Regions from separate parts of the Homo sapiens genome. Here all the other regions are linked to region 3. Evidence: fine-mapped expression QTL. A gene starts in region 3. Each other region holds a variant in brackets. All regions are shown on one strand. Distances are between the middles of the regions. Region 1 has its middle 2.5 kb from the start of TRE-TTC4-2. Region 2 overlaps ATF6 (activating transcription factor 6). Region 3 holds the start of ATF6 (activating transcription factor 6).

Evidence for each region. PIP is the estimated chance that this variant, and not a neighbour inherited with it, causes the effect.
Region 1: its variant is the best candidate, but not a certain one, in a credible set for the expression of ATF6 in whole blood (TOPMed, PIP 0.79).
Region 2: its variant is the best candidate, but not a certain one, in a credible set for the expression of ATF6 in whole blood (INTERVAL, PIP 0.86).

What each region holds. Positions count from the first base shown.
Region 1 is chr1:161,417,576-161,421,817 of GRCh38, reverse strand. It overlaps the pseudogene COMMD6P1 and the pseudogene TRUND-NNN3-1. Among named protein-coding and RNA genes, the nearest start is that of TRE-TTC4-2, 2.5 kb to the left of the region's middle. The variant T/C (reference allele first, on the strand shown) is at 1,748.
Region 2 is chr1:161,933,456-161,937,697 of GRCh38, reverse strand. The region is part of intron 15 of ATF6 (activating transcription factor 6); the gene reads right to left. Among named protein-coding and RNA genes, the nearest start is that of OLFML2B, 88 kb to the left of the region's middle. The variant G/A (reference allele first, on the strand shown) is at 1,709.
Region 3 is chr1:161,764,008-161,768,249 of GRCh38, reverse strand. It overlaps ATF6 (activating transcription factor 6), which reads right to left and starts at 1,930. Exons shown (of 16, transcript NM_007348.4): 1 at 1,808-1,930. The coding sequence starts at 1,889. ATF6-DT (ATF6 divergent transcript) reads left to right here and starts at 2,103. Exons shown (of 3, transcript NR_187280.1): 1 at 2,103-2,420; 2 at 2,749-2,826; 3 at 4,093-4,242. It overlaps LOC124904444 (a long non-coding RNA gene), which reads right to left and starts at 1,801. Exons shown (of 2, transcript XR_007066695.1): 1 at 1,444-1,801. RefSeq lists enhancers at 1,923-2,002, 2,033-2,112, 3,652-3,821.

The DNA of each region.
Region 1 (4,242 bases), 350 kb after region 3:
AAATATGTTTCTATTTTTACAAAATACCAAACGAATTAAGAGAGGTTTTCCATGTTTCAAATATGCAAATTAGCATAACGGACTAGTTTGTTTTCCGATTTGGAACACCTGTTACCAGAGGAAACAGTAGCGCATCTGGTAAAATAACCTGGGCATCTACTACATCTCTGAAATGTAAACAAACCGCCCTTAGGGTTTAAATGAGAACTCGGCAGGAGGTCGGGGAGGGAGAATTACATTTATTCTTAAAACTGTGCCTATGCCAATTCATCAGACCTTTCTAGATTTAGAAGACATTTGAAATAACTCACTTGTTTCATGTAAAAATTACTTATATTGATTTTTAAAAATCAAGCCGGGAGCGTTGGCTCCCAGCACTTTGGGAGGCGGGCGGATCACGAGGTCAAAGATCGAGACCATCCTGGCCAACATGGTAAAACCCAGTCTCTACTAAAAATACAAAAATAAAAATACAAAAATTAGCTGGGCGTGGTGGTGCGGGCCTGTAGCCCCAGCTACTCGGAAGGCTGAGCTGTAGTCCCAGCTACTCCTTGAACTCGGGAGACGGAGGTTGCAATGAGCTGAAAGCGCACGACTGCACTCCAGCCTGGCGACAGAGCGAGACTCAGCCCCCAAGAAGTAAAAATAAAAATCAGTAATTCTCAATAGAGTGGGGCTGAGGTGAGTCTGAATCTGCCTACCTTTTTACTCCATACAGGCAGTCCCCATTCCCTGGATACTGATGTACAGGATGTCAGTAGTGCCTTGCAGAGAGGCGTGCCTGCAAGCAAACCTTAACTGCTCCGGAGGGCAGTGACAGCCGCAGCCACGGCGATAATAGAATGCGTGTGATCAAGAAAGCAAAGAAGCAAACTTTCCTAACCGGGAATTGAACCTGGGCGCTGGCAGTTAAAGCACTAGAATCCTAGCCACTAGACCACCAGGGAGAGACAGCTTAGTTACCTGGGCAGCACCTTTTGGAAAAATACCTTAGGACTGACGCTTTAACCACTGCAAGCGTAGGTTATAAACTTTTAGGAGTGTCTGGAAAATGTTCTTAAAATTTCAAATAATTAGCCGGCCAGGCGCGGCGGCTCACGCCTGCAGTCCCAGCACTTTGGGAGACCGAGGTGGGCAGATCACCTGAGGTCAGGAGTTCAAGACCAGCCTGGCCAACATGGTGAAACCCCGTTTCTACTAAAAATATAAAAAATTAACCAGGCATGGTGGCGGGCACCTGTAATCCCAGCTACTCCGGAGGCTGAGGCAGGAGAATCATTTGAACCCGGGAAGTGGAGGTTGCAGTGAGTCGAGATTGTGTCATTGCACTCCAGCCTGGGCAACAAGAGCAAAACTCTGTCTCGGAAAAAAAAAAAAATCATGCTAATTATTTAAATTCTTAATTTTTCTTTACATAGAATGACAAATAAGAGCAAATAAAAAGCCCCATCATAGGAAGGACTATGGAAGAAAGGAAAAAGCTTTATAGTTCACTACTCTTCACAGCACTTTTCTTGCTGCTTTTTTCAGAAGAGGTTGCATTTTCACTTTGCACTAGACCCGACAATTTATGTAGCTGATGCTGGTACCAGAAGGTAAGATCAGTTTCCTGGGGTACATTTTTGGTATAGTGGTTAAGGCTTTTTTCTCAAACTTCCCAGTGGGAGTTTAAGTCTTGGTTTTGTCCTTCATTTTTCTTCCTTCCCACTATTAAGCTCCTGTTGCTGTGGCCATCAAGATTTTCTAT[T/C]GTTCTGGGGCTCAAGCAGACAAGGAACCCAAGAACACCCAGGCCACACCTTCCACCCAGGAGTCCAGCTGGGCCCTATGCCCAAATGATTGCTTTTTCTCTTTGCCCACTCCATCAAGGGTGACAGCTTCTTCCTAGTCAATTCTTTGCCATGGTCTCACTCCCCGCCTTCCTCAATCCAGAATCTGAGCAGGAAACGAATCTGGTCAAAGCACGTGGTTGGATTTTCGTGACCCAGTGCTTCCAAAAGGCCAAACCTCACCTCTGCTCCACCTGCCCCCACTCTTGGATCCAGCAGCCTCACACTTCCCAGGCCTCTGCCCTGACATCTGCCTCCCTAGAAGGATGAAGAGCAGTAGCGCCTGGAATTCCAACCATCTGCCACAGTCTTGCATGGCACAGGTGAGTTTTGTGGGAGATGGGGTGGGGTGGAGAGTAGACAACGTTTCTGGCATTTTCACAAATGGCCACTCTGATGCTGGCCTCTCGCTCTGTCCTGCCAGCAAAGGGTCAGACTAGGTGGTGGCCTGGGAGCAAATGGGGCATGAGCAATCAATGCTTCCTACCTATCTGGGCCCAGTGTAAAAGTGGGCAGTTAGAGGAGATGTTGTTGACTTTAGATTCATCTCCTTCCTCATTAGCATAGTTGGTGAGTATTCCCTTCTGTCCTGACAGATCTGGATTTGATCCCCCTGCCATTTAACTAATTTGTTACCACTTCACTTTTGTTTATACATTTTATTTCCTGGCTTACAATTAACCAATTCGTTACCATATAGATATATGGTTTTTATTTTACAAAAAAATCTAAACGGATTATGAGTTTACAAGCTCAGTAAAGTATTGGCTGGCTCTGGACTTCCCTAATAAGCCACATTAAACACCTGGTGACAGCTGCCAATGCAAAGGTCAAGGGCTGCTAATACCGGACTGCCTAGAACTCCATGATTTTAACTACTTTCAGGATTTCAAAGTGGGGGAAAGTTTTATTAATTACTAATACTATGACTGTGCTAATCCACCCATTCTAGATTTAGAATATTCCTGAGAGACTGCATGTTTCCGTGGCAAAATTAAACGTACTCAGGAGGCCAAGGCAGGAGGATCGCTTGACCCCAGGAGTTTGAGAGCAGACTGGGTAGCATAGCATAACATCTCTTAAAAAAAGAAAAAGAAGAAGAAATAGAGAAAAAATTAAACACAAGTATACATTAGTGATTCTCAACATGGGTGGGCCTAGTCCCCTTAAGGAGCATTTCAGAATTCCTCAGTGGACATCAGCCTTCGCGCAGCCTCCCTACCCATCAGGTGCTGATGAGGTTAGCAACCAGATGTTTGGCCTCCCCATTTGCTTCCCTTGAGAATTGTGGCTAGCGATATTAGGAGCTCACTACCATTCTTAATTTACCCCTTTGAGTAAACGATCAACATTTTTCTTTTAAACATGTATTTCAGGCCGGGTGCAGTGGCTCATGCCTGTAATCCCAGCACTTTGGGAGGCTGAGGCAGGCAGATCACTTGAGGTCAGGAGTTCCAGACCAGCTTGGCCAACATGGTGAAACCCCATCTCCACTAAAAATACAAAAATTAGCCAGGCATGGTGGTGCATGCCTGTAATCCCAGCTACTTGGGAGGCTGAGGCAGGAAAATCACTTGAACCCGGGAGGCAGAGGTTGCAGTTAGCTGAGATCATGCCACTGCACCCCAGCCTGGGTGACAGAGCAAGACTCTGCCTCAAAAAATAAACAAATAAATAAATAAATATATATATATATATATGTATGTATGTATGTATGTATTTCAGAAAGAAGAAATGATACTGGACTACAGAAGCATTACTGAGATGCTGTGGTCATCAGGCCAAGGGTCGTGGATGGGAATCTGTGGGGAGGCATTCCCCCATGCCCACAGTCCCCTCACTCTTTAGCCAGAGTATTGTTAGGTTTGGTTCTTGACCAAGGTCTCAGGCTCAACTCGTGTGTGTGCTTCAATATGGGTTGGTTCCTTCCTCCCTTCCTTCCTTCCTACCTCCCTCCCTCCCTTCTCTTTCTTTCTGTATTGAGGCCAGAGTCTCACTCATTGCCCAGGCTGGAGTGCAATGGTGTGATCTCGGCTCACTGCAACCTGCGCCTCCCGGGTTCAAGCGATTCTTCTGCCTGAGCCTCCAGAGTAGCTGGGATTACAGGCACCCACCACCACGCCCGGCTAATTTTGTATTTTAGTAGAGACAGGGTTTCACCATGTTGGTCAGGTTGGTCTCAAACTCCTGACCTCAGCTGATTCACTCGCCTCAGCCTCCCAAAGTGCTGGGATTACAGGTGTGAGTCACAGTGCCCAGCCTATTGATCTGTCTTTGAATTCACTAATCTTGTCTCCTGCTGTGTCCAATTTGCTGTTAAACCCATTCAGAGGGTTCTGTTCTAGAAGTTTTTGTCTCTATTCCAATTCTCTGTTGAAATTCTTCTCATCTACTTTCCATCTTTTCCTCTATTTTT
Region 2 (4,242 bases), 170 kb before region 3:
TGTTCTCATTGTTCAACTCCCACTTATGAGTGAGAACATGCAGTGTTCGGTTTTCTGTTCCTGGGTTAGTTTGCTGAGAATGATGGTTTCCAGCTTCATCCACGTCCCTGCAAAGTCCTTTGTCTTTTTATAAGAGCAGTAATTCCATTCATGAGGGCTCTGCCTTCATGACCTAATCACCCCCATAAAGGCTGATTTTCATATCATTACATTAGTGAAGAGATTTCAACATACGAATTTTAATGGGACACAAATATTCCAACAGAGATGAATTATTTATGGTAATTATGGTGTTGAAGTAACCAGAGATAAAAGGCATTAAGGTGATTTTTTTTTTTTTTTTTTTTTTTAACTGAGAGGGAGTCTCACTCTGTCGCCCAGGCTGGAGTGCAGTGGCACAATCTCTGCTTACTGCAACCTCCGCTGCCTGGGTTCACGTGATTCTCCCAACTCAGCCTCCCGAGTAGCAGGGACTGACTACAGGCATGCCTCACCACACCTGGCCAATTTTTGTATTTTTAGTAGGAGTGACATAATTTAAGTCTTAACAGGTTCATTCTAGCGTCAATATTTTAAAAAGACTAAAGAATGTAAGGGTAAATACAGAAAATGTTAGGAATCTATTTCTGATGATTTGGTCCAAAGTGGTAGTGCAAGAAGGTAAGAAGTAAGAAAGGTATGACTCAGGATGCATTGTGAAGTAGAGTTTGCTGAGGGATTAGATATGGGATGTGGGAGGAAACAAAATGGGTCAAGGATGACTGCAAGGAAGGTTTTTGGCTGTGCAATGTGAAGGACGGATATGCTTCACTGTGACTAGGATGAGAAGACTACAGGAGAAGGTTGAGGGTGGAAATCAGTTTGGTTAAGTGTGAACTGACAGGAATCATCTAAGTGAAGATATTTAACAGGCAGTTGGTTACATGCATTTGGAGTTCAGGGATTAGAGTGGGTTTGGAGGTATAAATTTCCCTTCCTGTTAAATATTTATAAAAATGTGAGTGTGGATATTAAACACATGCTGATTAAGTGCATAGCCAAGTGACTTACTGTCATAGTTAGGGTCCCAAAACAGCTTCATAGGTAAGAAGAAAACGAGCAAACTCCAACAAGATGAAATTTAATATGTCAAAATGTAAAATCCCATACAAATATATGATGAGAGAGATAGGGTAGAACAGAGACATGTTTGAAAAACATCTGTAACATTTTAAAATAACTTAAAGAGTGTAATAATTGGATTGTTTGCAACTCAATGGATAAATCCTTGAAGGGATGGATACTGCATTCTTCATGATGTAATTATTTCATGTTGCACACCTGTATCAAAACATGTCACATACCCCATAAATATATACACCTACTATGTACCCACAAAAATTAAAAATTAAAAAAAATTAAAAAGAAAAACATCTGTAGGTTTTAGTCAAGTGTAAGTTTGACAAGTCAAAGGTGAAATATAACTGCTCCTCAAATTCATGCCAACTAAGGTTGTGTTAAGAACACAACAAAAAAGGTGATAGTTCCATTCTCACCTGCTAATTAACACACCAGTAGCGTTGTGTTCCATTCTGAGTTGCTTCGAACCTAAACCATAAGGGAGCAAATGAAGAAACTGTATTTCTATGAGCAGATGTGGAGAAGATGTGGGATACAAAATGGCCATCTTCAAAGACCTGGTAGCCTACCACGTGAAGACGGCATTAAG[G/A]CTTTTTCTCTGAGGCCTAAAAATACTGAATTAGAACCAATAATTGAAAAGCACAGATTCTGGAGCAGTAACAGAAAGAAATTTCTAACATTTATAACTGTCTGAAAAAGGAATGGAATATAATCAATTCCGTTTCTTTAGAAATGCTCGAGCATTGCCACTCTTTACTGAGAACCTATTATGAATGCTTTCATATGCTGGACCTATTATATTACTAGGCACTTTATAGAATATATTAAATCATTCTTTCCTACAGTCTCATATGAGAAAATTACAACAGAGAAAAGTGAGCAAATATTATGTTGGTGCAAAAGTAGCTGTGATTTTTGCCATTAAAATGGCGAAAACAGCAATTACATTTGCACTAACCTAATAATACAGCTAAGGAAAAGATGGGATTACACTTGTCTCTGTCTGTTCAGGCTGCTGTGACAAACTGTATAGACAGGATGGCTTATAAAAACCAGAAATTTATTCCTCACAGTCTGGAGGCTGAGAAGAACTAGATCAAAGCACTGGCAGATTTAATGTCTGGTGAGGGTTTGCTTCCTGGTTCACAGATATTCATCTTCTCACTGTGTCTTCAAATGGCAGAAGGGGTGAGGAAGCTCTCCAGGGCCTATTTTATGAGAGCACTAATCCCATGCATGAAGCCTCTGACCTCATACCAAAGGCTCCATATCACAGTATGGTAGGGATTTCAACATATAAATTTTGGGAGGCTACAAACGCTTAGTTTACAGGAACATCTATACCTACCTATCTCAAAAGTCCATGATTACATACGAGTCTATCTCTCTGTCTGTCTCTCTCTGCATTCCCTGGATATTTTCAAGTGTGTAAAGAGGATTAGGGCATTCTTATTAACAACATGGAATAAAAAATATTCCACCTAGTTTATAAGTACTTGCTAATCTAAAGAGCTTTGTGACAATGTTGTACCAATTACTGAAACCCATTTGCATCTGTCTTTCTTTACAACTGAGTGCAGAACCTACTAGATTTCCCTATAAAACCAGATTATCTGTAATGAAAGGTCACTTGAATCAAGGGTAGGCAGAGAAGTAATTCTGTTTTGGGGAGGAAACTTCTTGGGAATGGTTATCACAATGGATGATACCCCAAGAACAAAGCAGACAATGTGAAAGTTGGTCATGACTCTTCCCCTGTTTCTAGGAAAACATGGGTTACCTTAGGAACATGGATTTAATGCTCTCAGTGGTAGAATGATCTTACTCCATGGAAAACAATGCATTTATAACATGCTAAGTGCCATGAAAACATATCTGTTCTTTCCATAAGCATATGTAAAATACAGGGGAAAAAATCACTAGCTTAAAAACAAGAGGAAAAACAATTAGAAGGGAGTTTAGAAGAAGCAGAAACACCCAAATGGTAACTACTACGGAAGAAACTTACATTTGAACCCAGGATCCTTAGAATTATGAGACTTTACATAGAGGGAGTTGGATTGGGAAAGAATGTGGTACAGCCAACAGAAGCTTTGCCAGCACCACTAGGAAACATCTAGGATTGGAAGGAGTCTCAGGCACAACAGCACACAGCTGCTATGTCACTTTGAAGCACTCACTCCTTCCTCTTGCAGAGCCCCTACTGCATTGTGGTTTCTAGTCCTAAAACCTAACCATTTCCTGCTAATTCTTTGGTGCTTCTTATTTTTTTCAAACTTTTCTTTAAAAAGTTTTGGTTCTGAAATGGCTCTGTTAGAGGAGGATGGAGGAAGGTGGCAACAATTTACCGGCATCACAAATCCGAGGGAAGACCTGGTTTTGGGAGAATGTTTGTGTAGCTTTACTCATGCCCAAGGTGGTCATAACTGGATCATTATCAATTCACACCTGAATGAATGTGAAAGTTCCTAATTGTGGCCCCCACTCATCCATGTCTAATCCAGCCTGTTTACGTACAAGTTATCTTGTACACTGTCATGAGATTAATCTTTTCAACTATCATTTTTATTGTGTCTCTTGCTTTTTGATGGTCCCTGCTGTATTGTGAAGAGTGCTGGTGGGATGCTTCTTTATGGTAGTGATGCTGGAGCAGAGAAGTAAATGAAGTGAAGCGAGCCATGTAACGATCTGGGTAAGAGGTTTTCAGGAAGATGGAAAAGCCCTGAGGCATGCATGAGCATCAACATGGGGAGGAGCAAGAAAAACTGTGCTGGAGTGGAAGGTTAAGGGAGATGGCAATAGGAAATGAAACTGGAAACATAGACAGAGATTGACTGAGCTATGGGAGGCCAAAATTAGGAGTGCAGACTTTTATTATGAGTGTAACTCATGATGAGTTAGAAGAGTAATTCAATAAGCCTTGCTGAATAAATGAATTAAAGTCCATTCAGGATCACCTATTTTGTTAAATTAGGGTTGACTTCTAAAGTATGATTTAAGGAGAAAAAATATTCTTTTGCATGTTGTACATGTTCAAATTAAAATCATCTTTACATTGGCCAAAGTTTTCCAATACTAAAATTCAATAGCAATCTTTATAAGTCAAGGGGAGAACATAAAGTT
Region 3 (4,242 bases):
AGATAAGTCTGGAAAATGCAGCCTGGGTATCAGAAGACGACATAAAATTATGCTACCAGGAAGTGTCCCACAGTTATACTTTAAGAAATGTCACTGGCCGGGCACAGTGGCTCACACCCGTAATCCCAGCACTTTGGGAGGCCGAGGTGGGCGGATCACCTGAGGTCCAGAGCTCCAGACCAGCCTAACCAACATGGAGAAACCTCGTCTCTACTAAAAATACAAAATTAGCCGGGCGTGGTGGTGCATGCCTGTAATCCCAGCTACTCGGGAGGCTGAGGCAGGAGAATCGCTCAAACCCGAGTGGCGGAGGTTGCGGTGAGCCAAGATTGCGCCATTACACTCTAGCCTGGGCAACAAAAGCGAAACTCCATCTCAAAAAAAGAGGTAAAGAAAAGAAATGTCATGAAAATATAATAGCTGACTAGCTGACAAAATAAATCATAACTACCCAATATATTCAAGTAGTCTTATTAATAACCAGGGATCTTAGGAAGAATAAAATCTGTAGACATGAGTTAGGAAAGCATTATAGAATAGATGCTAGGGGTACAGACTTTGGAGGTAGAAAAACCTGGTCTGATCCTTCTTCTGCCACTAACTAGCTCTAAGAATCTGAGCACAAATTCTGTTAGCCTCAGTTTCCTCATCTCTAAAATAAACAGTACCTCATTGGACTGTTGGTAGGATTAAACAAAATACTTCATGTCAAGAGTTTAACAGGGTCCCTGACACAAAGAGCTAAATAAATGGTTACTGTCACTAATGCATTTGGCTTGGGAAAATGGGAATAAAAAATCTTAAGTTTTCCAGCAACTCTTAAAAAATCTACCCAAGGATTAAAATAAATCTCCAATAGAATATAGTTTTAGAGAACATCTGTCCTTGAAACAATTAAATGACTTTGTTCAATAAAAAGTTGAGATTCCTTCCACTCCTGCTATTGAGAATGCTGATCCAAGGGAGAAAGATAAACTGGGTTCCCCCCAGTTCCAAGGCTGATGAGTGGTGTAGGCTCACTAGCGGGCCCATTTGGGAACCTACACAATCCCAAATTCATATTGGAACCTAAGAACAATATTACTATTATATCTTGCAATCAAGAGGAGAATAAAAGTCTCCTCTAAATACTTAGATAACAAAGTTTCTTCATTCTCATTTCCACTTCATCCCATTCCACCCTTCCTGACCACCAAAACCAAACAAAATATCCATTAACAAGAAAATTAAGAGCTGTATCTGGAGAGCAGTCAGGATTACACCATAAGTATTAGGTGTAGCTAAGCAGGGACCCGAGGTCAGGTGCTTGGGTGTTTTGCTTTTCTGCCAAGACGGACATCAGGCTTAAACCAATAGTAAAAGCTGTAAGATTAGAATTTCTTGTATATAACCACATTCTCTCATATACACCAAACACACAAAAACCCACTCCATTGTGCTCACCGCCCACATTTCACACTCAGGAAATAGCTTGTAGCCTTTTTGGCGGTCCCAGCCATTTTGCTCTAAACCTCCTAAAGACGTCCAGTGTTAGCCACACAAAAAGATCACCCGGTACTTCCCCAGTGGGAATAGTGAAAAACGACAGTTAACTCCAGTTAGACAATATTCTACTCTCCCTGTGGCCAGGACAGAAGCCGAACGATACTCCCAGACTCTTCCAGGGGCACGAACAGGAGTGACGAGGGGCCTCACTCCCCAGGCAGGGTTGGTCCACACCTGTCACCACGAGTGGGCGGAAGTAGGGAGGAAGAAACCTTTAGACGCGAACCCGAGCCACCCTGGTACATTCTCAGATCCCACTCACCCCAATCTTCATCCAGCCTGTGAAAGAGTCCCGGGCTAAAAGGTGACTCCATGGTGCCGGCAACCCCAGCCGGCTCCCCCATTTCACAAGTTCCTTCTCCCTGGAACTCCGTGATTAATATCTGGGACGGCGGCGGCAGGCGGACAAAATACTCCGTAACGCTGACGAGACGGTGGCCTAGTAAAGACAAACTACTTTTGCCGCACGAGGGATTTGTACGACACAGGAAAACGTCAGAGACTAAGCAAATTTGAATAGACCTCTGAGTAAATATTTCCCTTTTGGAGTTTTCAGGACTTTCTGTCCCGCTGTTTTATGGGGAAGGCGGGGGAAGACACGCAGACATCAATTCGACTAAACAAAGTTTATCAATAATATTAAAAATAAAAAGTAAAGCCCCTTTCTGAACATTATGGCTTATTCCTTGATTATCCTTCTTAATGCCACAGCGTGGCTATCTCAGAACAAAATTAGAGACTAACAGTAAATTTACTTTAATTTTTACGAATAATTCTCTATCAATGTAAAAATTTTTCATATACGCGTGTATGAAAGAAAAACACTACTATTTTTCCACATTCGTGAAAACTGCTTAACTGGGACAGTAACCGAGGTAAGTGGTACTATAAAACATACTTCTAGAAAGACTACTTTTATTTAAATAAATTGAAACAAAGCAAATATAAAAAGATAAACCCCCCAAATTTATCTCCTAAAGATAAATTTCTAAAGCATAGTATTTAGTCAAAGTCCAAGCGAGTCTACCCTAAGACCTACAGTAATCGAAGTTCCCAATATTTGTATTACTAAAGATTCGGGTTTTATTTAAAGGAAAATCACATACATCACGAACTCCAACTGAAAATATGAACTGAGTTTGATAAAGCAGTTTCAAGAACGCTACTTAAGAGAATTTCTTTTTCATCCATTTTAAATTTCAGCGGCCAGTGAATATTTAAAATACTGTAACCGACGAATACGTATGCTTCTAGGACCACGTGGAATCTTTCCCATGGTAGGTAAGCAAAACAAATGTGCTTCCCAGAACCCTCCAAACTGCTCGTGGGTATATTACTACAGATTACATAATGCAGCAGCGTTCCGGGACGCAAGCCCAGAAAAAGATAATTAAATCCCCTTACGTCAGATGTAACTACTTTTGTCATTAGAAAACTAATAAATTTTCACTTAAGGTGAAATTTATAACACTTTAATTCTCACCCAATTACAAATTCAAAAATTGACATAAAAAACTAAAATAAGGCCGGGCGCGGTGGCTCACGCCTGTAATCCCAGCACTTTGGGAGGCCGAGGCGGGCGGATCACGAGGTCAGGAGTTCGAGACCAGCCTGGCCAACATAGTGAAACCCTGTCTCCACTAAAAATACAAAAAGTTAGCCAGGCGTGGTGGCGGGCAAGTAGCTGTAATCCCAGCTACTCGGGAGGCTGAGGCAGGAGAATCGCATGAACGCGGGAGGCAGAGGTTGCAGCGAGCGGAGATCGCACCACTGCACACCAGCCTGGTCGACATTGCGAGACTGCGTCTCAAAAAAAAAAAAAAAAAAAAAACCTAAAATAAAATAAAATCATCGAGTCTTCTGTATCCCACTAGACACCTTAGTCTTTTAAGAAAATCACCATGACAAATCGCCAATTTTTTTAATTTCCAAAAGATTTTATTTTTATTCAAAAAGTGCAAGTAATTATGAAACAAACATTTGTGACCTATCACCAAGAATTTAAAAATTTAACATTTTTCATTTTTGTCCCAGATTTTTCATAAGAAATTAAATACTACAGAATTGAATTCCTCTTTCCTCCCTGCTTCATTTTCCTCCCTTGGCGTAGGCCACTTCTACCATGAATTTTATGGGTATAAAATTTTATTTTATAAAAATAAAAGTGTAATTCTAGTCCACTTTTATTTTTAGTTTTACGGTGCTTAAACATGTTTATAGACACATGCATTTAGTGTCATTTGGGTTTTTTTAATGTATGTAAACTTTAATGTTCTCCAAATCATTTTTCTTATTGGATATTAAGGATCTACCCATGGTATTTCCTTGAATGAATCTCAATTTCTCTCTCTCTCTCCCTCTTTTTTTTTTTTTTTTTTTTTTTGAGACAGGGGCTCACTTTGTCCCCTAGGCTGGATTGCAGTGGAGCCATCTCAGCTCACTGCAGCTTGACCTCCCAGGTTTAAGCGATCCTCATGCCTCTCCCCACAATAGCTGAGACTACGGGAACCCACCACCACACCCGACTAATTTTTGTATTTTTTGTAGAGACAGGATTTCACCATGTTGCCCAGGCTGGTCTCAAAACTTCTGAATTCAAGCAGTCCGCCCGCCTCTGCCTCCCAAACTGTTGAGATTACAGGCGTGAGCCACCGCACCCAGCCTCAAGAATGTCTTAAATAATGTATGTACTATTTT